Linked DNA regions of Homo sapiens. The protein of the gene in region 1 purifies or fractionates together with the protein of each later gene. This does not show direct contact. Each region holds a gene or a part of one and is shown in the gene's direction. Other genes may lie near its edges.

The links.
Region 2: the proteins of IZUMO1 (region 1) and LRATD2 purify together in Homo sapiens (affinity purification with mass spectrometry; 2 studies listed by BioGRID and IntAct, with this or other methods). This does not show direct contact.
Region 3: the proteins of IZUMO1 (region 1) and CNOT6 purify together in Homo sapiens (affinity purification with mass spectrometry; 2 studies listed by BioGRID and IntAct, with this or other methods). This does not show direct contact.
Region 4: the proteins of IZUMO1 (region 1) and GHITM purify together in Homo sapiens (co-immunoprecipitation; 3 studies listed by BioGRID and IntAct, with this or other methods). This does not show direct contact.
Region 5: the proteins of IZUMO1 (region 1) and PTPRD purify together in Homo sapiens (affinity purification with mass spectrometry; 2 studies listed by BioGRID and IntAct, with this or other methods). This does not show direct contact.
Region 6: the proteins of IZUMO1 (region 1) and ANKRD13A purify together in Homo sapiens (affinity purification with mass spectrometry; 2 studies listed by BioGRID and IntAct, with this or other methods). This does not show direct contact.
Region 7: the proteins of IZUMO1 (region 1) and PTPRF purify together in Homo sapiens (affinity purification with mass spectrometry; one large-scale study listed by BioGRID and IntAct). This does not show direct contact.

Annotation. Positions count from the first base shown.
Region 1 is NC_000019.10:48,740,352-48,743,909, reverse strand, and holds the end of IZUMO1 (izumo sperm-egg fusion protein 1 isoform 1 precursor), read left to right. Parts: intron 1-384; coding exon 385-465; exon of another isoform or gene 466-502; intron 503-1,600; coding exon 1,601-1,701; intron 1,702-1,937; exon of another isoform or gene 1,938-1,967; coding exon 1,968-2,121; intron 2,122-2,431; coding exon 2,432-2,609; intron 2,610-2,881; coding exon 2,882-3,002; 3' UTR 3,003-3,058; downstream 3,059-3,558. UniProt on the Homo sapiens protein: Essential sperm cell-surface protein required for fertilization by acting as a ligand for IZUMO1R/JUNO receptor on egg.
Region 2 is NC_000008.11:126,551,943-126,554,456, reverse strand, and holds the end of LRATD2 (protein LRATD2), read left to right. Parts: 3' UTR 1-2,014; downstream 2,015-2,514.
Region 3 is NC_000005.10:180,570,879-180,574,378, forward strand, and holds part of CNOT6 (CCR4-NOT transcription complex subunit 6), read left to right. Parts: intron 1-351; coding exon 352-554; intron 555-3,109; coding exon 3,110-3,322; 3' UTR 3,323-3,500. UniProt on the Homo sapiens protein: Poly(A) nuclease with 3'-5' RNase activity.
Region 4 is NC_000010.11:84,146,009-84,149,508, forward strand, and holds part of GHITM (growth hormone-inducible transmembrane protein), read left to right. Parts: intron 1-2,721; coding exon 2,722-2,830; intron 2,831-3,500. UniProt on the Homo sapiens protein: Plays an important role in maintenance of mitochondrial morphology and in mediating either calcium or potassium/proton antiport. Mediates proton-dependent calcium efflux from mitochondrion.
Region 5 is NC_000009.12:8,517,003-8,520,502, reverse strand, and holds part of PTPRD (receptor-type tyrosine-protein phosphatase delta isoform 1 precursor), read left to right. Parts: intron 1-2,073; coding exon 2,074-2,655; intron 2,656-3,500.
Region 6 is NC_000012.12:110,005,930-110,009,429, forward strand, and holds part of ANKRD13A (ankyrin repeat domain-containing protein 13A), read left to right. Parts: intron 1-3,500. UniProt on the Homo sapiens protein: Ubiquitin-binding protein that specifically recognizes and binds 'Lys-63'-linked ubiquitin. Does not bind 'Lys-48'-linked ubiquitin.
Region 7 is NC_000001.11:43,596,883-43,600,382, forward strand, and holds part of PTPRF (receptor-type tyrosine-protein phosphatase F isoform 1 precursor), read left to right. Parts: intron 1-865; coding exon 866-1,171; intron 1,172-1,837; coding exon 1,838-2,031; intron 2,032-3,500. UniProt on the Homo sapiens protein: Possible cell adhesion receptor. It possesses an intrinsic protein tyrosine phosphatase activity (PTPase) and dephosphorylates EPHA2 regulating its activity.

The DNA of each region.
Region 1 (3,558 bases):
AAACTATTCTCCTGCCTCAGCCCCCTGAGTAGCTGGGATTACAGGTGCCCGCCATCACACCCAGCTAATTTTTGTATTTTTAGCAGAGACGGGGTTTCACCATGTTGGTCAGGCTAGTCTTGAACTCCTGACCTTGTGATCCGCCCGCCTCGGCCTCCCAAAGTGCTGGGATTACAGGAGTAAGCCACCGCATCCGGCCTCTACTTACAATCTTTACTGAGCCTTGTTGGAGCCCACTTACTACTTACCTGCGTCCTGGTCCTGTGCCTTCGTCTGACCATCTAGGAATGTCATAGATGATCTGGCCCCAGCCCTTAGCCCTGACCTCTCCTTTTAGCCATGCCCCTTAGTGGGCAAATACAAGCCTTGACCCTGCCCCTCCAGGTGTGATGTTGCAAACTCTGATCTGGTGCAAGAACTGCAAAAAGGAGGTTCACGCTTGTCGAAAGTCCTACGATTGCGGGGGTGAGAGAACTGGACCCAGCAGGAGGAATTGGTGCAGGTGGGGTGGGGCGAGAGGAGAGGCAGTCTAGAGAGAGCCTAGATGGGGGTGTGGGGGCAGTAGACAAGAAAAGGTAGGGTTTAGGCCAGGTGCAGTGGTTCACACCTATAGTCTCGCACTTCGAGAGGCTGAGACGGGAGGATTGGGAAGCCAGGAGTTTGAGACCAGCCTGGGCAACATAGCGAGACTCTATCTCTACAAAAAAATTTAAAAATTAGTCAGGTGTGGTGTTGCGTTCCTGTAGTCCCAGCTACTTGGAAGGCTGAGGCAGGAGGATTGCTTGGACCCAGGAGTTGGAGACTGCAGTAAGCTATGATCATACCACTGCACTCCAGCCCAGGCAAAAGAGTGAGACCTTGTCTAAAAAGAAAAAAAAGAGGCCGGGCGCGCTGGCTCACGCCTGTAGTCCCAGCACTTTGGGAGGCCGAGGCAGGTGGATCACAAGGTCAGGAGTTCAAGACCAGCCTGGCCAAGATGGTGAAACCATCGTTTTTGTACTAAAAATACAAAAAAATTAGCCAGACATGGTGGTGGGCACCTGTAATCCCAGCTACTCAGGAGGCTGAAGCAGAGAATTGCTTGAACTCAGGAGGCGAAGGTTGTAGTGAGATAAGATCGCGCCACTGCACTCCAGCCTGGGTGACAGAGTGAGACTTCATCTAAAAAAAAAAAAAAAAAAAAAGAGAGAGAGAAAGAAAAGAGAAAAGACGAGGTTACAACAAATGTAAAGGATTAGGGGAGGGTAAAGAACCGTGAAGGAGGCCCGGCGCAGTGCCTCATGCCTGTAATCGCAGCACTTTGGGATGCTGAGGCAGGCAGATCACCTGAGGTCAGGAGTTCCAGACCAGCCTGTCCAATATGGTGAAACCCCATCTCTACTAAAAATACAAAAATTAGCCAGGCGTGGTGGCAAGCGCCTGTAGTCCCAGATACTCAGGAGGCTGAGGCAAGAGAATCGCTTGAACCCAGGAAGCGGAGGTTGCAGTGAGCCGAGATCGCGCCAATGCATTCCAGCCTGGGCGACAGAGCGAGTCTCCATCTCAAAAACAAAAACAAAAACAGAATCATGAGTGTCCCATGGTCATCCCCCACCCCCAGAGCGGAATGTGGAAGTTCCTCAAATGGAAGACATGATCCTGGACTGTGAGTTAAACTGGCATCAGGCTTCGGAAGGCCTCACTGATTACAGCTTTTACAGGGTGAGGGCCTCAACTTCTGTAACCCTTGAACTCCCTAGACTACAATACTTGTGTTCTGGATCTATGGGCCTGCACCCACGATTCTCATGACCCAGGAGGGTGGTCTATTAGGTGTGGTCTCTACAGACCTCTGGGGACCCCGTGCCCTGACCAGTGACACCCTGGACACTCACCTCCCACACTGAGGCCCTGTGATCTTCTCACCCCTGTACTCCCCCAACCCCTGAATTCCTCAGGCCTCAGTGACCCCTTGAGCTTGGGTCTAGGTTTGGGGGAACAATACGGAGACCTTGGTGTCCAAGGGGAAAGAGGCCACCCTGACCAAGCCCATGGTGGGTCCAGAGGATGCAGGCAGCTACCGCTGCGAGCTGGGCTCTGTGAATTCCAGCCCAGCCACGATCATCAATTTTCACGTCACAGGTCAGTGCTGTGGGGCTGAGAGAAGTGTAGGATTCAGGGCCCAGGAAAGCTGGGGTCCGCGGCGGGGGCGTGGCCTTGGCGATGGGGGCGTGACTTCCTGTTGGGTGTGGTTTCGGGGCACGGGGTGTGGCTTCCTGCCGGGGGCGTGGCCTCTGGCCCCGAGGACAGGGGTTCCCTTGGGTGTGTTCAGGCTTGACACTGTTGAAGGCGTGATTATCTCTGGGATGGCCGGCTACTGGGACGGGCTTGTCTTTGCCAGGGCAGGAACTCCACGCCCTGCCAGGACTGCTCTTTACGCTTTCTCTAACAGTGTTGCCCAAAATGATCAAGGAGGAAAAACCTTCTCCAAATATCGTAACCCCGGGGGAGGCGACCACGGAGTCGTCCATAAGCCTCCAGCCTCTGCAGCCCGAGAAAATGCTGGCAAGCCGCCTTCTGGGGCTGCTGATCTGCGGCTCCCTAGCACTGATAACCGGCCTTACCTTTGCGTAAGCAACCCATTGAAGAAGACAGGCTTGGCTTGGAGTAAGGGGCGGGGCTTCCAGGAACCCAACACAGAAGCTGGTCTGGGGGCTACTGAGGCCTGAGAGCAGGACTTTCCTGGGGATGGAGTGCGGGGGGCTTGAATAGGAGGACTTCGAAGGGCGAGGCTTAGGTAATTGCTAGAATAAGGTCACAAAGGGGGAGGTTGGGAGGGGTGTCCCCCACACAATTAGTACCCAAACCGGTTCCATGATCTGCACCCCACTCCCACCCCTAGGATATTTCGTCGAAGGAAGGTGATCGATTTCATCAAATCCTCACTGTTTGGCCTTGGCAGTGGAGCGGCCGAGCAAACCCAGGTCCCAAAAGAAAAGGCCACAGATTCGAGGCAACAATAAAGATTTATCTTGTTGTCTAAGCATCTGACTCACTCCCCGGGACGGGACTGATTCTAGCCTTTGGTTCCCCGAGAGGAGAGGTCTGGGGATGGGCTCCGGCCTGAGGGAGGAAGGGCAGAAAACCGGGACCCTTGGGTCCTGGAGGGGACCAACTGACTGCGATGTAATTCCAGAATCAAGGAATGGGGCAGGGCCAACCCTACCCAGATCTCCTCCCCCAGGCCTGGTCTCCTCACAGGACGCCCCCTCCCCGCTCTTCCTGCCGGGTTTCCTCTTGCCTTTTCCTGTCCCCCACCCAGTGCTGGGAGCCGTGGCAGAGGCAAGAGCAGTGGAACTGACCCAGGCCAGTGGAGCCAGGGCCTCCGGGTGTGCCGGACCCGAAGCAGGGTAAGAGCCAGGGACCCAGCAGCCCAAACCCCTCCTCCCTGGGCCCCAAGACTCAGTCCCCCAGCCATCTTCCATCCCAGGACCCAGGAATCCAGGGTACCATCCCTCTCCTCCCCCTGGACTCGCAAGTCTGAGCCCCAGCCCCCTCCTCCCTCTGACTCGGAGTCCA
Region 2 (2,514 bases), on another chromosome or scaffold:
TTTAATACTCTCACAGCTTTGTGTTTATTCTCTTTGCTCATGGAATAGCAGAACAAGATAAACATGGGTTAAGACATTTAGGAGAACCTGCTGTATCTAACCCAGTTGGATTTTCTTTCATGCTTAACACAGTAGTGAAAATAGAAGGTAGGCCGGGCACAGTGGCTCATGCCTGTAATCCCAGCACTTTGGGAGGCTGAGGCAGGTAGATCACCTGAAGTTAGGAGTTCGAGACCAGCCTGGCCAACATGGCGAAACCCTGTCTCTACCACAAATACAGAAAATTAGCTGGGCGTGGTGGCAGGCGCCTGTAATGCCTGCTACTTGGGAGCCTGAGGCAGAAGAATTGCTTGAAGCTGGGAAGCAGAGGTTGCAGTGAGCCGAGATCGCACCACTGCACTCCAGCCTGGGCAGCAGAGCAAGTAGTAATAACCACCGTGTAGACAAGTGGGAGGGAAGAATAGAATGGCACTGTCCAGCTCTGGGCTAGCCAGATCAACTCCCCCACCCGTCTTCTTCCTCTGTCCCAGAATGGAAAATGATGTATGGTCAGTCACGCTGAAGTATAGCAGCGACTGTGTTAAGAGAGAGCAGTGACTCTCTCTTCTAGAGAAGAGGTTTTCAATAACAGGGCTTGGAAATGAACTAGAATAGGAAATAGATCTTTTCAGATGCTGCTTTCCCATGTAATACAAGCGTTTCTACAGGGTACCAGAGGTGTGAAATATGTGACACTTAAGAACAGTGATTTTTATTGGGAATTTTCTTAGGGTTATTACACTTAAAGCAACAACCAACTAGTAACAGCTCCAGGAAAGGGGAATGAATCAACTCTTGGTTCTTTCCTGAAGACGGCAGTGTTGTGGATAAGTGAGTTTTTAATGCCCTGGCAGTGGCTACATTTGACACTTTAGAAAAAATAAACATATTTAATAATTTTTGTTTCTCCTTAGGAATAAGACTGTAGAACTGTTTTGTACTGTGAATTACGGATGCTCTTTGAAGGAAAGAAATATCGATTCTAATGTTCTTCAGAAGTTCTGGCAGGGATAAGCAGGACATCGACTGGAACGTATGCTAAATGAAAGCAGACAAATTTCTATTTTCTTACCTGAGCAAATATTTTATTGAAACTGCTTATGTATGTCAAAGGAGCCCACAACTTCAGCTACACAACTTTTTGTATTGAAAGAACTCATACTTTTTGTAGCTTTTATTTCACATTTAATTTAAAGTGACTTTTAGCACTAAAATGCCTAGAAGATTTTACTCCAGACCTATAAGGAAATGTTTAGTTTTTATGAAAAATGACAAGTCGATGGTTAAACTTCTCATGTCTTTGGTGCTTTGGCCCTAATAGCACTGGACAACACCACGACCACATGGAAACATATTTTTGGAAGCAAAACTTTAATTTTATATAACGTATGCTATGGAGAGCTAAGACAATTTAAGGACTACTTGTTTTCTATTTTTTTTCTTAATAAAATGGAATCCACTGTGTTGAAGACTCTTGATATCATGTGCTTGTCTAACCATTTTTTGTTTTATAAATTAGAATAAAATATAGTTGTGATAATGGTCATCGAATGGATTTGTTTGGAAAGCTACATCTTATTTGTGAAATGTTTTTTAAATCAGAGTAACTATCAACTGATTCAGCTTTTTGTTGTTTTGTTCTTGGCTATAATACTTGTGACTCATGAAGAATTATGTTGACAAACAGGATAAATTCCACATGCATTTTATTTCCCAGTGAGTTGTATAAACTTTATTTTTGTTGAAGGTTGTATGTTAAATCAATGTTACATTCTTATATCACTTCTTGAGAAGGAAGTTCCGATTTGAAATTGTATCATTTCCTTCAAAATGAAGGGCAGTGCTTAGTTAAATAAAAGATTGATGATATCTTTTAAGCCATTTCCTCTTCACTATGTCTTATTAAAATAAAACCTGTCAAGTTCTTTTCAAAAGATGCTATGAGCGTTTCCAATAAACCATCTATTAGAGTTCACTGGATTTTTTTCCACTTGAATACCTTTTTTCTGACATTTTTGGTCCAAATTCAAGCTACTCAGTTTCCTATAATTTCTCTGAGAATATTAGCGTGCATCACCTTTGTATTGCACAGTAAACATTTTGTTGAATTCATTTAGTGACTGAAAACCCTGCATCTACTTTGTGAAAATCAGTTATTGCTGAACTATCAGTGTTCATGAAAAATGACTTATGAACATAAATTTTCAATACATAGTGATTTTTCAGAATCCATGCAAAAATTGTTGGAAACCACACTCATTATGGAGTCTACACTGGGCAGTCTGTTTAGTAGCCCACCGGGAATCTGTGTTGCATCTTAAGTGGCTTCAGAGTTCCAGATGAAGGGAACGTATTTGCCACATAATTACAGAAAATGGGTGAACATAGTGGCACGGCACTGTTGGCATAAGGGATGCAGGTGCCAGTGGTTGGTAAGAGAACAGATGTGGCATCAGACTGGTGTGTGGGATGCCA
Region 3 (3,500 bases), on another chromosome or scaffold:
ATACTAAGATGCTGATCGTGGTGTTATCTTTAATTCTTTGTAAAAAGTGGAAACAACCTGCATTTTACAAAATAAGTAACCAGTAAATATTATCCACCAGCCCAATTGCATTGTGCAGCCATTAAAGAACGATAATTGGGAAGACACATGTTCATAAAGCAAATTATAAACTATTCAATACTCTGTGATGACAACTGTGTAAAAATAGATTTGGGCAAGTCCTGGCAAATGTAAAAGGAAACATTTTGGAACGTGGGAATATGTATAGTTTAAAACTTCTTACTATTGCATGATCTTTTAAAATTACTTTTTGTATATATTTGACAATAAAAAAATTTGTCTTCATTGTAGGTGTTGTAGAATATTTGAGCACAGGTGGAGTAGAAACAAATCACAAAGACTTTAAGGAGTTGAGGTATAATGAAAGTCTCACAAACTTCAGCTGTCATGGGAAGAATGGAACCACCAATGGAAGGATCACTCATGGTTTCAAGTTACAGAGTGCCTATGAGAGTGGCCTGATGCCTTACACGAATTACACATTTGATTTCAAGGTGTGTCTTGAGACTGATAAGCTTTTCAAACCTGTCTTTTACTGGCAGGTGTTCTGATACATCATTATGTCTTTAAAACTGTGGCTGTGTGTTCAGGCTGGAATGAAGCAGTCTTGAATTCATTGACAGCAATGTTCTTTGTTTTTTGTTTGAGACAAGGTCTCACTCTGTTACCCAGGCTGGAGTGCAGTGGCACAGTGATGGCTCACTGCAGCTTCAACCATGCCGGCTCAAACGATCCTCTCACCTCGGCCTCCCTAGTAGCTGGGACTACAGGCGCCTACTACCACGCCTGGCTAATTCTTGTATTTTTTGTAGAGATGGGGTCTCGCTATGCCCAGGCTGATCTTGAACTCCTGGCCTCAAATGATTCTTCCACCTCAGCCTCCCAGTGTGCTGGGATTACAGGCGTGAACCACTGTGCTCAGCCAGTAATATTCTTTTATTACTCTTTTTTAGAAGTCCATGTGATCAGTGTCACATCCTTACTTTGTAGATATTTATTCTAATAATTTTCAGGATAAGAAGTCACATGAAATAATCTGTAAAATTCCTAAGTTGACTTTTTCACCTTTTGGGGACAATTATGTTTCTTATATTCTCATTACTAATAGCTAGATATGCAGCACCATAATTATCTAGTTTGAGTGGCATTTGTGGTAAGATGTTCCTTCTCTTACATTTTAATTTAACTGAAAGTAAACTCTTGCATGCCAAAATGTGATTTATATTAGCTATTTTTAAGTGTTTCTAAGATACATCTTTTTTCTCCCCCTAGAGACAGTCTTGCTCTGTTGCCCAGGCTGGAGTGCAGTGGCGTGATCTCGGCTCACTGCAACCTCCACCTCCCAGGTTCAAGTGATTCTCATACCTCAGCCTCCCAAGTAGCTGGGATTACAGGCATGAGCCACCTCACCTGGCTAATTTTTGTATCTTTGGTAGAGACGGAGTTTCACCATGTTGGCCAGGCTGGTCTTGAATACCTGGCCTCAAGTGATCCACCCACCTTGGCCTCCCAAAGTGCTGGGATTACAGGCATGAGCCACCGCACCTGGTCAGACTTACACCATTTTTAACGTTAGTGATTGTTTAGGGCTGTCACTTTCTTGTGTTCAACTGTCCTTTTTCTAAAAAGAGATATGGTCTCACTCATTTTGCCCAGGCTGAAGTACAGTGATGTGATGATAACACACTGCAGCCTCAAACTCTCGGGCTCAGGCAACCCTCCTGCCTCAGCCTCCCCGCTAACTTGGACTACAGGTGTCCGCCGCCATACCCAGATCTTTTTTTTTTGGTAATTTTTTGTAAAGACAAGGTTTTGCTATATTGCCCAGCCCAATCTTGAACCCCTGGCCTCAAGCAATCCTCCTGCCTTAGCCTCCCAAAGTGCTGGGATTATAGACGGGAGCTACCACATCTGGCTCAGCTGCCCTTTTAAACTACTTTTTGCATTTCTGCTTTCTTAAAAATTTCTTAACTCCCAGCTTTCTATTTCTAAGCTGCTGGAAAAGTAATCATTTAGATTAGACTGTCAGAGTGTAAATAAGAGTTTAGATAGTATCTCAGGAGCCTTTGCACCTTAGAGCATAGAAAGTAAACCCCTGTTTATCCTCAGGTGCCCCTTCCTTTCAGGTTCTTCAGGAGACATTGAAGAGAAAGCATGGGTAGCAGCCACAGAGTGGGAATGCTTAGCGTTTTCTTTCTCTTTCTGTTGCTGATGCAGTGGCAGGAAGAAGACACTTGAATGTGCTTCAGTACATTTGGCCAAGAGCATGTAGAGGGGAGGACCAGAACCATCAGATGGGAACAGTTTAGTAGATGCCATGGCGGGGTGCTGCTGAGAGAAAAGGGGGTCAGGTAGAGACAGTCCTGCCCTCATGGAGCTGAGGTGTGATGAGAGAGACAAGTCTCAACCACACAAATGAGTAGATAATTACACCTTGAGATGGCCATTAGCAAGGGAAGTGAATCTGTGGTGAGAGGTAGGGTAGTAAGTAGGTAGGAGCAGGATTCAGGAAGGTCTTTGGAAAGCAGTTGAACCTGACATTGAAAGATTAAGAAGGAATTGACCTCATAACAAGTAGAAGAAAGTGTTCCAGGCAGAATGGTGGAGGGGGGCAGTGTGTGTGTGTGTGTGTGTGTGTGTGTGTGTGTGTGTGTGTGTGTGTGTCCGTCCGTCCGTCCGTCCTGGGGCAGGAAAGAACTTGGTACCTATAGGTCCCCTCACATCCTCACCCCTTTCTCATTCCAAAGGCTAGTGTGGAAGCAGGGAAAGTGGCACAAATTAGGCTAGGAAAGAGAAGCAGAGGCTGCATCCTGAAAGGCCTTTTAGGTCTTGTTAAAGATCCAGATAAGAAGAATGCTTCATTCTGCTAGATTTGACATTTTGCACGGGGACCATTTGGTGTATGTAGTACAGACCTCATCCTACAAGCTAGTAAGTTTCACTTGTTCTGTTCTGTTCACCAAACATGACATAAAGGCATGTCTTGAAAGCACTGAGGATTTTAGTGTTGTCTTATACGGTGCTTATCTTTTTTTCTGTTGTTTTTCAGGGTATAATAGACTACATTTTCTATTCTAAACCTCAGCTGAACACCTTAGGCATCCTGGGCCCTCTGGACCACCACTGGCTGGTTGAGAATAACATCAGTGGCTGCCCGCACCCCCTCATCCCCTCTGACCACTTCTCACTTTTTGCACAACTGGAGCTCTTACTGCCTTTCCTGCCCCAAGTCAACGGCATCCACCTTCCTGGCAGGAGGTAGTCAAGCACCTTCAGAGGACAGCCTTGATTCACTTGTAAACTTGTGAAAATCTGAACATAGGGGAGTGAGGTATGGCCACTGAGGATTTTTGCTTGCTTAAGAATGATTTGGACTTTCAATCTGATTATTTGATAAGGATATAGTATGAAAGCCAGGTGCTAGCAACAGACAAATTCTG
Region 4 (3,500 bases), on another chromosome or scaffold:
AACATAGTGAGACACTGTCTGTAATTTTTAAAGAAATAGAAAATTTTAAAAATTAAAAAAAAATTTTTTTAAGTAGACAAGGGCGGTCCAATTTTACCAAACAGTTTAAGGGAAGAGGAGGTAGGAAAACCTAATTTCAGAGGTGACTTACAATCCCATTAGAGGGAAATTCAAGTGTTTGAGGTCTGGAGGGTAAAGAAGACGTGGTTAGAAAGGATACAGTTGTCAAGCTGAGGAGAGAACCTAAGCAGTCGGAGGCCATTGGAGATACTGGAACAACAAAAGCGTGATTTATATTTGAGTTTTTAGAACCAATGTGGAAGAGACATGGAGCAGGTGTACCAGCTGTGCCTTTGTAAGATCTGAAATGAGGGATGATAAGAACCTGAACTAGAGCAGAGTGTGATACTGGAGGGGAAGGAGAGTTCATGTAACACTGATTCCCCACATAGGGACGAAAACCATATTATTTTCACTGTGTTGTACTTTACTAAAGGATAACCATTTACAGTAGCAGCCATTTGGATATTTATATATTCTTAGGATCATGCTTTTTCACATAGACGTCATGAATCTCCCAGCCCAGAGGTTCACAAAGGCACAGAATGTTTCACTGGGGATGTCAGTTTTAATCAGAAGCAAATAATTTAAAACAATACTTTTGTAATAAACATGACAATATTTACCTAAAATTTTAGGCCCTAAAATGAGGCTTCAAAGAAGTTTTGTGTTTGGGCCATATCCTCAGTCCCTTCTGGGCAAAAGATTACCCTCTTCCACTGTTAGTAATACAGAAAATAGGAAAGCCAAAGACAAGTGTTACAGAGATGAAGATGTAACCTTTTGGGTGTGACAGACATATATATACAAACACACACATAGACACACAGATAATGTCAAAGTTTGTCCCAAGTGCATCTGAGGAGAGGTATCTGATCTTGCTCTTGGGCAGCCAGGGTACCTACTAGAAAAAGCTTTTGAGATGAGACAGTACCAGAGTAAGTCGACCAGATATGGAAGGAGATATTCTTAGGCATGATGGATTGAATTAAGGAGGCCTGAAATTTTGGGGCATGTTGGCAGCTGTGCCAGTTCCGTATGGTTGGAATGCAGAGTTTGGAGTGAGACTGGATCATAGAAGATCTTAAAAAAATTTAATTGCTGCTGTCCACAGAGGATGTGTGAAATAGTTTGTAGTAATTATTTCTCGTTAGAAAATGGTGGAGTGGAGCTCGATATGCTTTTCTTTTCTTTTTAATGTTTTTTAAAAATAGAGACTAGATCTCTATGTTTGCCTAGGCTTGGCTTAAATTCCCAGGCTCAAGTGGTCCTTTCACCTCAGCCACCCAAGTAACTGACATTACAGGTCCATACCACTACACCCAGCTCAGTATGCTTTTTCATGTTAAGGTTTTCCCATTCTTGGCAAAACCAGCTATTTGGTTTACCTGTACTTTATATTAGAGGTTGAATATTTTGATGTTCATAGGTGAGACAGATAATACAGATGAGTGAGGAGGCCTAGTGTGTCACACAGGAGATTGTTGACATCTAGAGGTTACTGACATCTAGAGTTAACCTTTTCAACTAAAACCATTCACCATGTTCTTTTTTTTTGTTTGTTTTTTTAAACATAGTTTGCCAAACAAAACATCTGTGGCCTGATTCCAAGGGCTACAAGTTTGCAATCTCTGATTTAAATTTCTTGGAGATTAGCACCATCTTATTTCCATTACATGTTAATACATTCTTCTTGTCATACACAAGCAATATTTAATTATAACACTGGAAATCTAAGATAGGCAAAGAAAAGGAATGAGGACCAAATTAGCCATAAACCTGGAAGGGTAGAAGTGTAGAATCTTATTTCTCATTTTTCTTTTCCATGTGCTGTGATAATCTACTTTCTATTTTTCAAGTCTTCATTTAGCAAATATGGAGTTCAAAGTGATGTGCTATATATATTTTTTTTAAAAATTACTAATTTGTAAGCATCACTGATTTTAAAGAAAATGCTATTTGTGCTATACAAAAATATATTTTTTAATTAAGAGTTAATTATCTTGGGATCCCTAAAGGGTTTTTGTTTCACCTCTGTCCAACAAGAGTAAAATTGTTAAAAGATGTGTTGCCAGTTCAAGCTTAAGACATGCATTTGAAGCTGTCTGCAAAACCTCATATATGGCAGTAGGGGGCACTCGTGCTAACTTAGCCAAAACTCTGAAATAAACCCAGAGCTTTTAATGTGCCAGAAAAATTAAAGTTTTTATTTTTTATTTTTTATTTTTTATTTTTTTATTTTGAGATGGAGTCTCGCTCTGTCACCCAGGCTAGAGTGCAGTGGCACGATCTTGCCTCATTGCAACCTCCACCTCCCGGGTTCAAGTGATTTTCCCACCTCACTCAGCCTCCCAAGTAGCTGGGACTACAGGCGCGCACCACTGCGCCTGGCTAATTTTTGTATTTGTAGTAGAGACAGGGTTTCACCAGTTAGCCAGGCTGGTCTCAAACTTCTGACCTCAGGTGATCCACCTGCCCCAGCCTCCCAAAGTGCTGGGATTGCAGGCGTGAGCCACCACGCCTGGCCTTAAGCTTTGATTTATTATCTTTAATATTTTTACAACTAGTTTATTAGAAGTAACTAATTGTACTTCAAACCTGTGGGTTTCTGCTTTGTTTTCATATAAAGATCAGTTTTTCTTAATAGTACTTGTCTTTCAGACAATTGGTGTGACCTTTGCAGCCATGGTTGGAGCTGGAATGCTGGTACGATCAATACCATATGACCAGAGCCCAGGCCCAAAGCATCTTGCTTGGTTGCTACATTCTGGTATGTTCTGTTTTAAATTGTTACGAGACAACCTTGACTACCACCTTTTTTGGGTGGCTCTTCACAGTTGTAAATGACCTACATGGAATTTAAGCCTCATGTTTAGAAAACACCATTTTCTTCAGTCATTACTGGCTGCATTATTGCCAGACCTTTGCTTTGAAAAGTTGATTTTGCTAAGACCATGGACATCTTCAATACGAAACTTGTATCTTCTGACAGTCTAGTATATGCAGAGATTTACTTTTGTGTATTTTGTTCGATACCAGGAGGGTTTTATATCTAGTACGCATCATTTGAGAGTTGTTTTTGTCTGGTATGTTTAGAAAAATTAAAAACTGAGGATAGAGAAAGTTGTGCTAAAAATGTTGCTGCGAAATAACAAAAAACTGAGAGGAGTCCTAATAGAAGTGTTCTGTGTAGAAATTTCACCCACTGTTTTGCCTAGAGCAAAAAGTATTTTTAAATTATTCATCATCATGAGATAGTATACCTTATTAACCATATAACTTGATCTAGAAATGTTATTCTTTAAGCTAGTATTGAAAATTCAGTATAAAGATAGCTTTGTGCCTAGTCTATGAGGTAAACGACATTTAAGAAAAAGGTAACTTATTCTTCTTAGCACTGAAATAATGCATTATCTAAGTTTTTTTTCAATTAAGGAGTT
Region 5 (3,500 bases), on another chromosome or scaffold:
TATCTTCTTTTCCTAGGCAATGTTGTAGGCATTTGGAATTCAGCAGCAAGTAAGAAGTACAAGTTTGCTACTCTTGAAAAGCTGCCATTCTAGGGGGTGATCTTAGAAAATGCAATACACGTTATAATTGGTATCGCATCTCTAACCAAGCGTATATATCAAATATATGCTATATAAAACTAATGACATGAGAACAAAGGTACACATTGTCAACATTTACAATCGTGAAATAATGTTATATTGTGTAACCTTAATATAATAAGCACACATGTATTTATCCGTACATTACAGACATAAAACCTGTACTGTACAATAAATGTGACTTAGTGAAACTAATAATGTCAGCTAAATATCAGTGAGCACAGCTTTAATTAGCAATATTTGTATTTGCTTTGAAAGTTCAGAAAGACATGTAGGGGAAATCTGGAGCACACACAGCCTTGAAAAATGCCAGGTCAGAATATTTAAACAAATTTCATTTTATTATTATTTTCAGTAAATTCCCTTGACAAAATACTATCATTCTGTAGTTCTTTGAGTAGTGTGTAAATATTGAATCACCTTTTTTATAATTACCATTTCAGCTTTAAATATTTGAAGGCTTGCTGAAGACCTTTAAGAATTCAAAAGCAGGGGCCACTTTAAACTAATATTTTGTTCACCTTCTCATCTTTGTTTTCCTGACTCTTGCCACTTCCCTGTCTTTTCCACCTCAAAAATAAACAAATAAAACATAAGAGTGAATCTTAATGGCAAATTAAAATAAATCAAAACAAAAGAACAGGTTGAAGAGAATGAGGTGAATGGGTGCTGACTCATTTATTCAGTTAACTGTTTAACGATTCTCATTAAAAACCTACCGAGTGCCAGGCAGCATTCTAGGCATTCACAATTTTACAGTAAGTCAGAAGTACAAGTTTGCTGCTCTTGAAAAGCTGCCATTCTAGGGGGTGTTATACTTCTTGCCTTTATGTTGGCAAGGAAACAGGGACACTAATGGGCTGATTATATGAATGTTACCCTTTGAGATTTCTCTAAAGAGTCAACTATTAGAATGCCCCTTCCTACCCTAATAGCACTGCGTTTCAGAATCATTGTTTAGAATAAGGCACTTGAATATGAGGTCAGCAAAGCAGACAGTTTATATTTTTAATTAGTAGTATTTTGATTTGTATTCTTCTGCTAAAAAGAAAGAATTAGACCTCTAAAAAGATGGATTTTATTGCAAATATTTGTCATGTAGCTACATTGGATATTTCTGATGTGGAATATAGAATGCATATTAATATGACCATAACATACCTTAAAAAGTGATTGGTGAATGTGCCTTAATTTACTTCCTTCAGCAATTTTTAAATATTAAGAATAAAGCATTGATTTGAAATTTCTATTCTTTTGCACCTTAAAATTTTTGGTTTTTCATTTACAAGAAAATTTTTAGTAATGGTATTGTGTCTTACCAGAATATAGATGTTATTGTTTCATCGCAATTTAATTTCATTTCAATGTATTCCACATTTTGTTCTTTTCAATGTTTATCGGTATTTCAGTTATACCATTTATTTATTGGGGCAAGGGGCTAATTGGCCAAGCTTTTGGTATAATAATAGTAATAACTGCAGCTAATACTAAGGTTTTTTTGTGGGTTCCAGTTACATTCTAAGAATCTTAGTGGATTGGCTCATTAGTCTTCACAGCAAACCCATGAAATACAGTTACATACAGCTGTATAATATGACTTAAATAATAATATTTTTCCCATTTCCACATGAGGAAACTAAAGCAAAGAGAGGTTAAGAAATGCGTGCAGGATCACTTAGCTAATAAGTAGAGGATTTGGATACAAGCCTAAAAATATGCTATCAAGCCCTTCTAGGAAAGCAGGATTTGTGTCACCTATGAATGTTTTCCTGTCCTTCTTGGCCATTCAGAAAACTACTCTTTGCTATAATTTCATTTAATTAAATCTTCAGTAGATACATAATCCTGTCATTTTCATAGTAGAGTTTATAGATTTTTGAAATATTATAGGGATGATGGGTAGTCATTGTCTTTTATCTTCCCCCATCCAAGCCTTACCCAAACCTCCAGGAACTCCTGTAGTGACCGAGAGCACAGCTACAAGCATCACACTGACGTGGGACTCTGGGAACCCTGAGCCTGTTTCTTATTACATAATTCAGCATAAACCTAAAAACTCTGAGGAACTTTACAAAGAAATTGATGGGGTGGCGACCACACGCTACAGTGTCGCTGGACTAAGTCCCTACTCGGATTATGAATTCAGGGTTGTTGCTGTCAATAACATTGGGCGGGGGCCTCCCAGCGAACCTGTGCTAACACAAACCTCAGAGCAAGCACCATCCAGTGCCCCGAGGGATGTCCAGGCACGAATGTTGAGTTCGACCACCATTTTGGTACAGTGGAAGGAACCTGAAGAGCCAAATGGACAGATCCAAGGATATAGAGTTTATTATACAATGGATCCCACTCAACATGTCAACAACTGGATGAAACACAATGTAGCTGACAGCCAAATCACTACTATTGGCAACTTAGTGCCCCAGAAAACATATTCTGTCAAAGTCCTGGCTTTTACCTCAATTGGAGATGGTCCCCTTTCAAGTGACATACAAGTCATCACTCAGACAGGAGGTAAGTTTGGTTGAGGAGGGAAATAGGGCAGGAGGGAAGGGCTGGTGCAAAGAGGTGAGAAGGACAAAAACAAAGAAGGAACAAAGATGGTATGAATTTTAATTTTTGAGATTTAGGGCTTCAAAGCAACAGATGATAGATATCTGAAAAGGAACAAGCATGGACATCTGAAAAACTAATCATTTTGAGCAGAACAATGCATTAACACCCCTTCTTTTTAATTTGTATGGGAATGACTTGAAGACTTCTCTATGTGAGATAGAACAATGTCTCCCCCATGCCCAGTTTTGAGAATAGAAAAACGACACTTCTTTGTAATAGCTAGTATGGTAGAGTGGTCTCAAAAGAGTATTTAATTTGTGTAAGATTGGATGGTTCAAGACAAAGCTAAAAAATAAAACTGTTACAGGGCCTTGGGTATTTAAATGGCTTATATTTGCCAGAAGCTACTGGCTTGAAAATAAGTATTCTCTGAGTGGCTTTAATTTCTGTTTTTCTCTGTATGGCCTCAGTGGATAAAGAGAGACAGTTACCGAGATCTCAGATAGAACATTGGGCCTGATTGATTAACTTTGCTAAGAGCTACAGCAGACATTAGACTATTTTATGAAGGAAAACTTGGCCCTCCCAGTGGTTTTATTTTTCTAAGAGGTTATCAAACCTCTTTGGTCTTTGAGTCAAGGTGATCAGTTTGGCTTTGGGCTAATATAAAATAACAGGCCTCTTCTAAAGTTTATTCTTGAGCCACGCACAGTGGCTCACGCCTGTAATCCCAACACTTTTGGGAGGTAGGTGGATCACTTGAGGGTCAGGACTTTGAGACCAGCCTGGCCAATGGCAAAACC
Region 6 (3,500 bases), on another chromosome or scaffold:
TCTCAGCCTCCCTAGTAGCTGGGATTACAGGTGTGCACCACCACGCCTGGCTAATTTTTGTATTTTTAGTAGAGATGGGGTTTCACCATGTTGGCCAGGCTGGTCTTGAACTCCTGACCTCAAGTGATCAGCCCACCTTGGCCTCCCAAAGTTCTGGGATTACAGGCATGAGCCACTGCACCCAGCCCCATGTATAAGTTTTTGTATGGGTATATGTTTTCATTTATCTTGGGTATATACCTTGGAGAGGAATTGCTGGGTCATGTAGTTACTCTATGTTTTAACTTTTTGCGGAACTGCCAGCAATTTTTCGAAGTGGCTGCACTATTTTACATTTCCACCAGCAGTGTATGAGATTCCAGTTTCTTCACATCCTTGTCAACACTTGGTATTATCTGTTGTTTTGTTTGTACGCATCCTAGTGGGTGTGAAGTGGCATCTCATTGTGGTTTTGATTCGCATTTCTCTTATGATTAATGATGTTGAGCATCTTTTCATGTGCTTATTGGCAATTTGTGTATCTTCCTTGGAGAAATGTCATCTCAAATCCTTTGCCCATTTAAAAATTGAGTTATTTGACTTGTTGAGTTGTAAAGGTTCTTTGCATATTCTGGATAGTAGGCCCTTATCAGTATGTGATTTGCAAATATTTTCTCCCATTCCATGGGTTGTCTTTTTTTTTTTGAGATGGAGTTTCGCTCTTGTTGCCTAGGCTGGAGTGCAATGGTGTGATCTCGGCTTACCACAACCTCCGCCTCCCAGGTTCAAGCAATTTTCCTGCCTCAGCCTCCCGAGTAGCTGGGATTACAGGCATGCGCCACCATGCCTGGCTAATTTTGTATTTTTAGTAGAGATGGAGTTTCTCCATGTTGATCAGGCTGATCTCGAACTCCCTACCTCAGGTGATCCTCCCGCCTTGGCCTCCCAAAGTGCTGGGATTATAGGGATGAGCCAATGAGCTCAGCCAAAATTTTGTTCTTTTGCATGTAGATATGCAGTTGTTCAAGCGGCACTTGTTGAAAGGACAGTTCTTTCCCAATGAATTATTTTGGCACCCTTGTTGAAAATCAATTGACCATAAATGTGTGGGTTTATTTCTGGACTCTAAATTGTATTCCATTGACCTGTATGTCTGTCCTTATGCCAGTACCACGTTGTCTTGATTGCTGTAGCTTTGTGTAGTACGTTTTAAAATTGGCAAGCGTGAAATGTGAGTCCTCAGACCTCTCTCTTCAAGGTGGCTATTCTAGGTTTCTTGCATTTCCACATGAATTCTAAGATCAGCTTGTCAATGTCAGCAAAAAGCCAGCTGAGATTTTGATAGGAGTTGAATTGAATCTATACCTCAGTTTGGAGAGTTTTGTCATTTTAACAATATTGTCTTTTAAACCATGAGCATAAGGATGTTTTTCAATTTATTTAGGTCTTCTTTAATTTTTTGAGGTTTTTTTTGTTTGTTTGTTTTTTGAGATGGAGTTTTTACTATTGTTGCCCAGGCTGGAGTTCAATGGCACAATCTTGGCTCACTGCAACCTCCGTCTCCCAGGTTCAAGCGATTCTCCTGCCTCAGCCTCCCAAGTAGCTGGGATTACAGACATGTGCCACCACGCCCGGCTAATTTTGTATTTTTAGTAGAGGTGGGGTTTCTCCATGTTGGTCAGGCTGGTCTCGAACTCCCGACCTCAGGTGATCCGCCCACCTCAGCCTCCCCAAGTGCTGGGATTACAGGTGTGAGCCACCACACCAGGCCAGTTCTTCTTTAATTTTTTTTAAACAATGTTTTATGGTTTAAGAGTATGTAAGTTTTATATTTATTGTGTCATATTTATTCCTAAATGTTTTATTTTTTGATGCTATTATAGATGGAATTGTTGTCTTAATTTCATTTTTGAGTTGCTCATTACAAGTATGTAGAAATATAATTGATTAGTTATTGATCTTGTGTCCTGAAACCTTGCTGAACTCATTTAATAGTTCTAATAGTTTTTTGGTGGATTCCTTAGGATTTTATACACAAGATCATGTCATCTTCCTTTCCATTCTGGATGCTTTTTATTTATTTTTCTTGCCCAGTTGCCATGACTAGAATCTCTAGTACAATGTTGACTAGATATGGTGAAAGAGGACATCCTCATCTTGTTCCTCATCTTAGAGGGGAAACATCCAGTCTTTCACCATTAACTATGATGTTAGTTGTGGGTTTTTTAGAGATGCTTTTTGAGGAAGTTTCCTTTTATTCCTAGTATGTTGAGAGTTTTGGTTTTTTTCTTTTAATCATGAAGGGATGTTGGAGTTTTGTCAGATGTTTTTGCTGCAGCTGTTGAGATGATCATGTATTTTGTTTTATCCTATGATATGGTGTAATACGTTAATTGACTATCTGAAGTTATACCATTCTTATATTTGTAGGATAAGTCTCAGTTGGTCATAGTGTATAATACCCTTTTTATATGTTGCTGAATTTAGTTTGCCAGTATATCGTGGAGGATTTTTGCATCTATATCATAAGAGATATTAGTGTGTGGTTTTCTTTTCTTGTGACGCATTTGTCATCAGGATAATAGTGGGTTCATAAAATGAATTGGAAAGTTTTCCTTCTTCATCTATTTATTGGAAAAGTTTGTGAAACATTGGTATTAATTCTTTAAATGTTTAATAGCATTCACCAGTGAAGTCCAGGCATGGTGGCTCGTGCCTGTAATCCCAGCACTTTGGGAGGCTGAGGTGGGCAGATCACATGAGGTTAGGAGTTCAAGACCAGCCTGGCCAACATGGCAAAACCCCAATTTTACTAAAAGTACATAAATTAGCCAGGTGTGGTGGTGGGCACCTGTAATCCCAGCTACTCAGGAGGCTGAGGCACAAGAATCACTTGAACCTGGGAGGTGGAGGTTGCAGTGAGCTGAGATTGTGCCACTATACTCCAGCCTGGGCGACAGAGCGAGACTCAGTCTGGAAAAAAAACCCATCTGGGCCTGCATTTTTTTTGGTGGGCAGTTTTAAAATTACTAATTCAATCTCTTGTTATAAACTTATTCAGATTTTTGGTTTCTTTTTGAGTCAGTTTTGCTAGTTTGCATTTCTGTAGGGATTTATCTTGTTCATCTAAGTTGTCTAATTTGTTGGCATACAGTTGTTCATAGTCTTCTTTTATTTTATTTTATTTTTTGAGACGAAGTTTTACTCTTGTTGCCCAGGCTGGAGTGCAATGGCACAATCTCGGCTCACCACAACCTCCGCCTTCCGGGTTCAAGCAATTCTCCTGCCTCAGCCTCCTGAGTAGCTGGGGCTACAGGCATGTGCCACCACGCGCGGCTAATTTTGTATTTTTAGTAGAGACGGGGTTTCTCCATGTTGGTCAGGCTGGTCTCGAACTCCCGACCTCTAGTGATCCACCCGCCTCGGCCTCTCAAAGTGTTGGGATTACAGGCATGAGCCACTGCACCCGGCCCATAGTTTTCTTTTATAATCCTTTTTATTTCTGTAGAGTTGCTAATATT
Region 7 (3,500 bases), on another chromosome or scaffold:
ACATTGTGTGTGAGAGTGTGTGTCAGATGCCATGTGTGAGACACCAAGACACGGGTATGTGATACTCTGTGTATATGTGAGTCTGTGTGAGAGACACTGATACTCCAAGACATTGTGTGTGTGTGACACTGTGAGACACCAAGACAGTATATGTGCGAGACAGCCTATGTATGTGACAGTGTGTGTGTGAGACACCATGAGAGACTGTGTATTTACTGTGAGAGACTGTGTGAGAGACACGTGTGAGACACTGTGTATATGACACTATGTATACGTGAGACTGTGAGACACTATGTGTATGTGACACTGTATATGTGTGAGACCGTATGAGACAGTGTATATGACACTGTATATGTGTGAGACTGTGTGTGTGAAACACTATATGACACTGTATATGTGTGACACTGTATATGACACTATATGTGGAGACTATGTGTGAGACACTATGTATATGTGACACTATGTATGTGTGTGACACTGTGAGAGACACTGTGAGACACCAAGACAGTATATGTATGAGACACCCTGTGTGTGTGACACAGCGTGTGACTGTGTGAGACGTGTGTGAGGCACTGAGACTGACACTGTGTGTGAGGCTGTGTGAGAGTCAGTGTGTGTGATAACTGTGTGTGTATCACCGTGTGTGTGTGTGAGAGAGGGAAGGAGAGAGAGGGAGGCAGGTCAGAGGGAGTCAGGTGTCCTTGGCGAGAGTGGCAGCAGCCTGCCTGGAGGGACCCTGGGATGGCCATTTCAGCACCTAAGGGGTAGCCTGCCCGGGTGAGTCTCCAGTCCACTGTGACTCAGTCATTGTGCCTGTGATCCCCACCCTCCATCTGCTTGCTTCCCCCCCATTTGTCTTCCCCAGCCCCCTCCGCCCCTCCCCAGAAGGTGATGTGTGTGAGCATGGGCTCCACCACGGTCCGGGTAAGTTGGGTCCCGCCGCCTGCCGACAGCCGCAACGGCGTTATCACCCAGTACTCCGTGGCCTACGAGGCGGTGGACGGCGAGGACCGCGGGCGGCATGTGGTGGATGGCATCAGCCGTGAGCACTCCAGCTGGGACCTGGTGGGCCTGGAGAAGTGGACGGAGTACCGGGTGTGGGTGCGGGCACACACAGACGTGGGCCCCGGCCCCGAGAGCAGCCCGGTGCTGGTGCGCACCGATGAGGACGGTAGGCAGTGCCACCGGGGCGGGAGGGGAGGCGTTCTGCCTCAGACACCACCCACCAAGCTCCCCAGGGCCTTCCTTTCCTGAACACAGGCCCAGGTCAACTCATCTTTCTGGTTCAGGTGTAATGGCCTAAAGTGGGGGGATGTCACTTACGGGATAACTGAGGCCCAAATCCCAGCCTTTGGGGCTGTCTCCAAAGCAGCTGAAACCTTCACAGGCTAAGATGGGAGAAGCAGCCCTGTCTAAGATTTGAAAGGTCAAGATTGGGCAGATTGGTGTAAAAGATACTCAAAGTAGAATCAGCAAGACTCCACGTTGGCTGGACATTGGCATGATTGGGGCCTAGGAGGAGTCAGGACAGGTTGTGCTGACTAGGGGTGGTCAAAGACCTGGTGCCCCACCTCCACCTGTTCCCCCATGTCGACCCTCCCCACCAAGTGAGAGGCCTGGGCCAGAGGGGTGGGCAGGGCCAGTCCTGGGCTCTTACCCGTGGCGGGCAGAGGGAGCCTTCCGTGTGCCTCACCAGGGACAGATGATCTAAGGAAACTGTATCAGGGCCTTTCCTGGGGGAGTGGGGTGCTGAGGCAGGACCCTCAAGTTTGCTGTGCCCACCTGAGCTAGGGTTGATACCTCCAGGCCTGACTTCCTTCTCTACCTGACCCCCCAGTGCCCAGCGGGCCTCCGCGGAAGGTGGAGGTGGAGCCACTGAACTCCACTGCTGTGCATGTCTACTGGAAGCTGCCTGTCCCCAGCAAGCAGCATGGCCAGATCCGCGGCTACCAGGTCACCTACGTGCGGCTGGAGAATGGCGAGCCCCGTGGACTCCCCATCATCCAAGACGTCATGCTAGCCGAGGCCCAGGTGCAGCATTGGGTGGTGGTGGGGTGGCAGGGTGAGCACAGACCAGCATGCACAAGCTCCCTTTTGGGGCCCAGATATGTCCCTCTTCCCCTGCCTGCCCTCAGCAGTGCTGTGACTGCCTTTCCTTGGTTGTGAGACCCGAGATGCTTTGCAGCATCAGGGGTTAGGCTGGGGTTTTTTGGGTGTGGGTTTTTTGTTTGTTTGTTTGTTTTGAGATAGAGCTTCACTCTTGTCGCCTAGGCTGGAGTGCCTCCTGGGTTCAAGCAATTCTCCTTCCTCAGCCTCCCGAGTAGCTGGGATTACAGGCGTCTGCCACTGCGCCTAGCCAATTTTCGTATTTTTAGTAGAGACAGGGTTTCACCATATTGGCCAGGCTGGTCTCGAACTCCTGACCTCAGGTGATCCGCCTGCCTCAGTCTCCCAGAGTGCTGAGAATACAGGTGTTAGCCACTGTGCCCCACCAGGTCGGGGTTTTGAGATGTGCCTTTCCCCTAGACAGTGCTGGGCTGGCATCCACTCTTCCCACAGAAAGGGTAGAGAGAGTGCTCCAGGGCTGTCTTACCCCACTGGCGGCCATGGGTCCGTGGTTGCTGCAAAGCTCTGTGAGTAGCCAAGTAGAGTGTTGCCCTGCTCCTGGCCCTGCAGGGAACGATTCAGCCCCTGATGTTCACCCTCAAGAGCTAGGCCTGCTGGCCAGCCTCACACCTCCCTCTGTGCACATCTGTCTTCCTGGGAGGATGGTCCTGCCCTTGAGCTTGGGGTGAGGTCCCTGGGGTATTCTGAACACTGGTTGCTATTCAGATGAAGAACTTGGAATGCTGGGGGGTTATGAGAGTGGTATGGAATTATTCAGCAAGTAGGTGGCTGCTGCGCTTGGATGAGAAGCCATGTCTGTGGACCCCTAGGAAAGGGCCACAGTTGCTGTCATGAGCCCCCTCCCAAAAGACCCTGCTGGAGAGTCACAACACCTGGTGTGGTGCTCTCAAGGTCTCCCTATCCAGGAGCAGGGCCTCCCCATTGAGCCTCTCACCTCTGCCTGGGTGGAGAGCAGGGGTGCGTGTACCACTCAATGCTGTACACACTGTGCAGAGGGGTGGGGTCACCCACACAGACAGGAGCCTTATTCCTCCAGCTGGGCTCAGCCATCTGAAGCAAAATTCTTTCTGCCCAGAGGGTGCTCTCTTCCCCCTCTCAGCCTGCCCAGTGCTAAGGCATCCGGGGTGGAGGAGGCAGGCATGTGCACCCACCTGCATTCCTGGGGCAGGTTGAGGGCTCCTTGTGGAGCCTCAGTGAACACACCTACCCAGAAACATCCCAGGAATGGGTTCCCCTAGCCCCTCCTCTCTGAGGGGGCCAGTGGCCACAGCTGTGGCCAGTGGGGTTCCAGAGAAGCCACTTCAAGTGCCCCCTTCTGGTCCCAAGAGGTTCGGAAGGGAGCTGGGCCAGAGGCTCAGGGACGCTGCCCATTT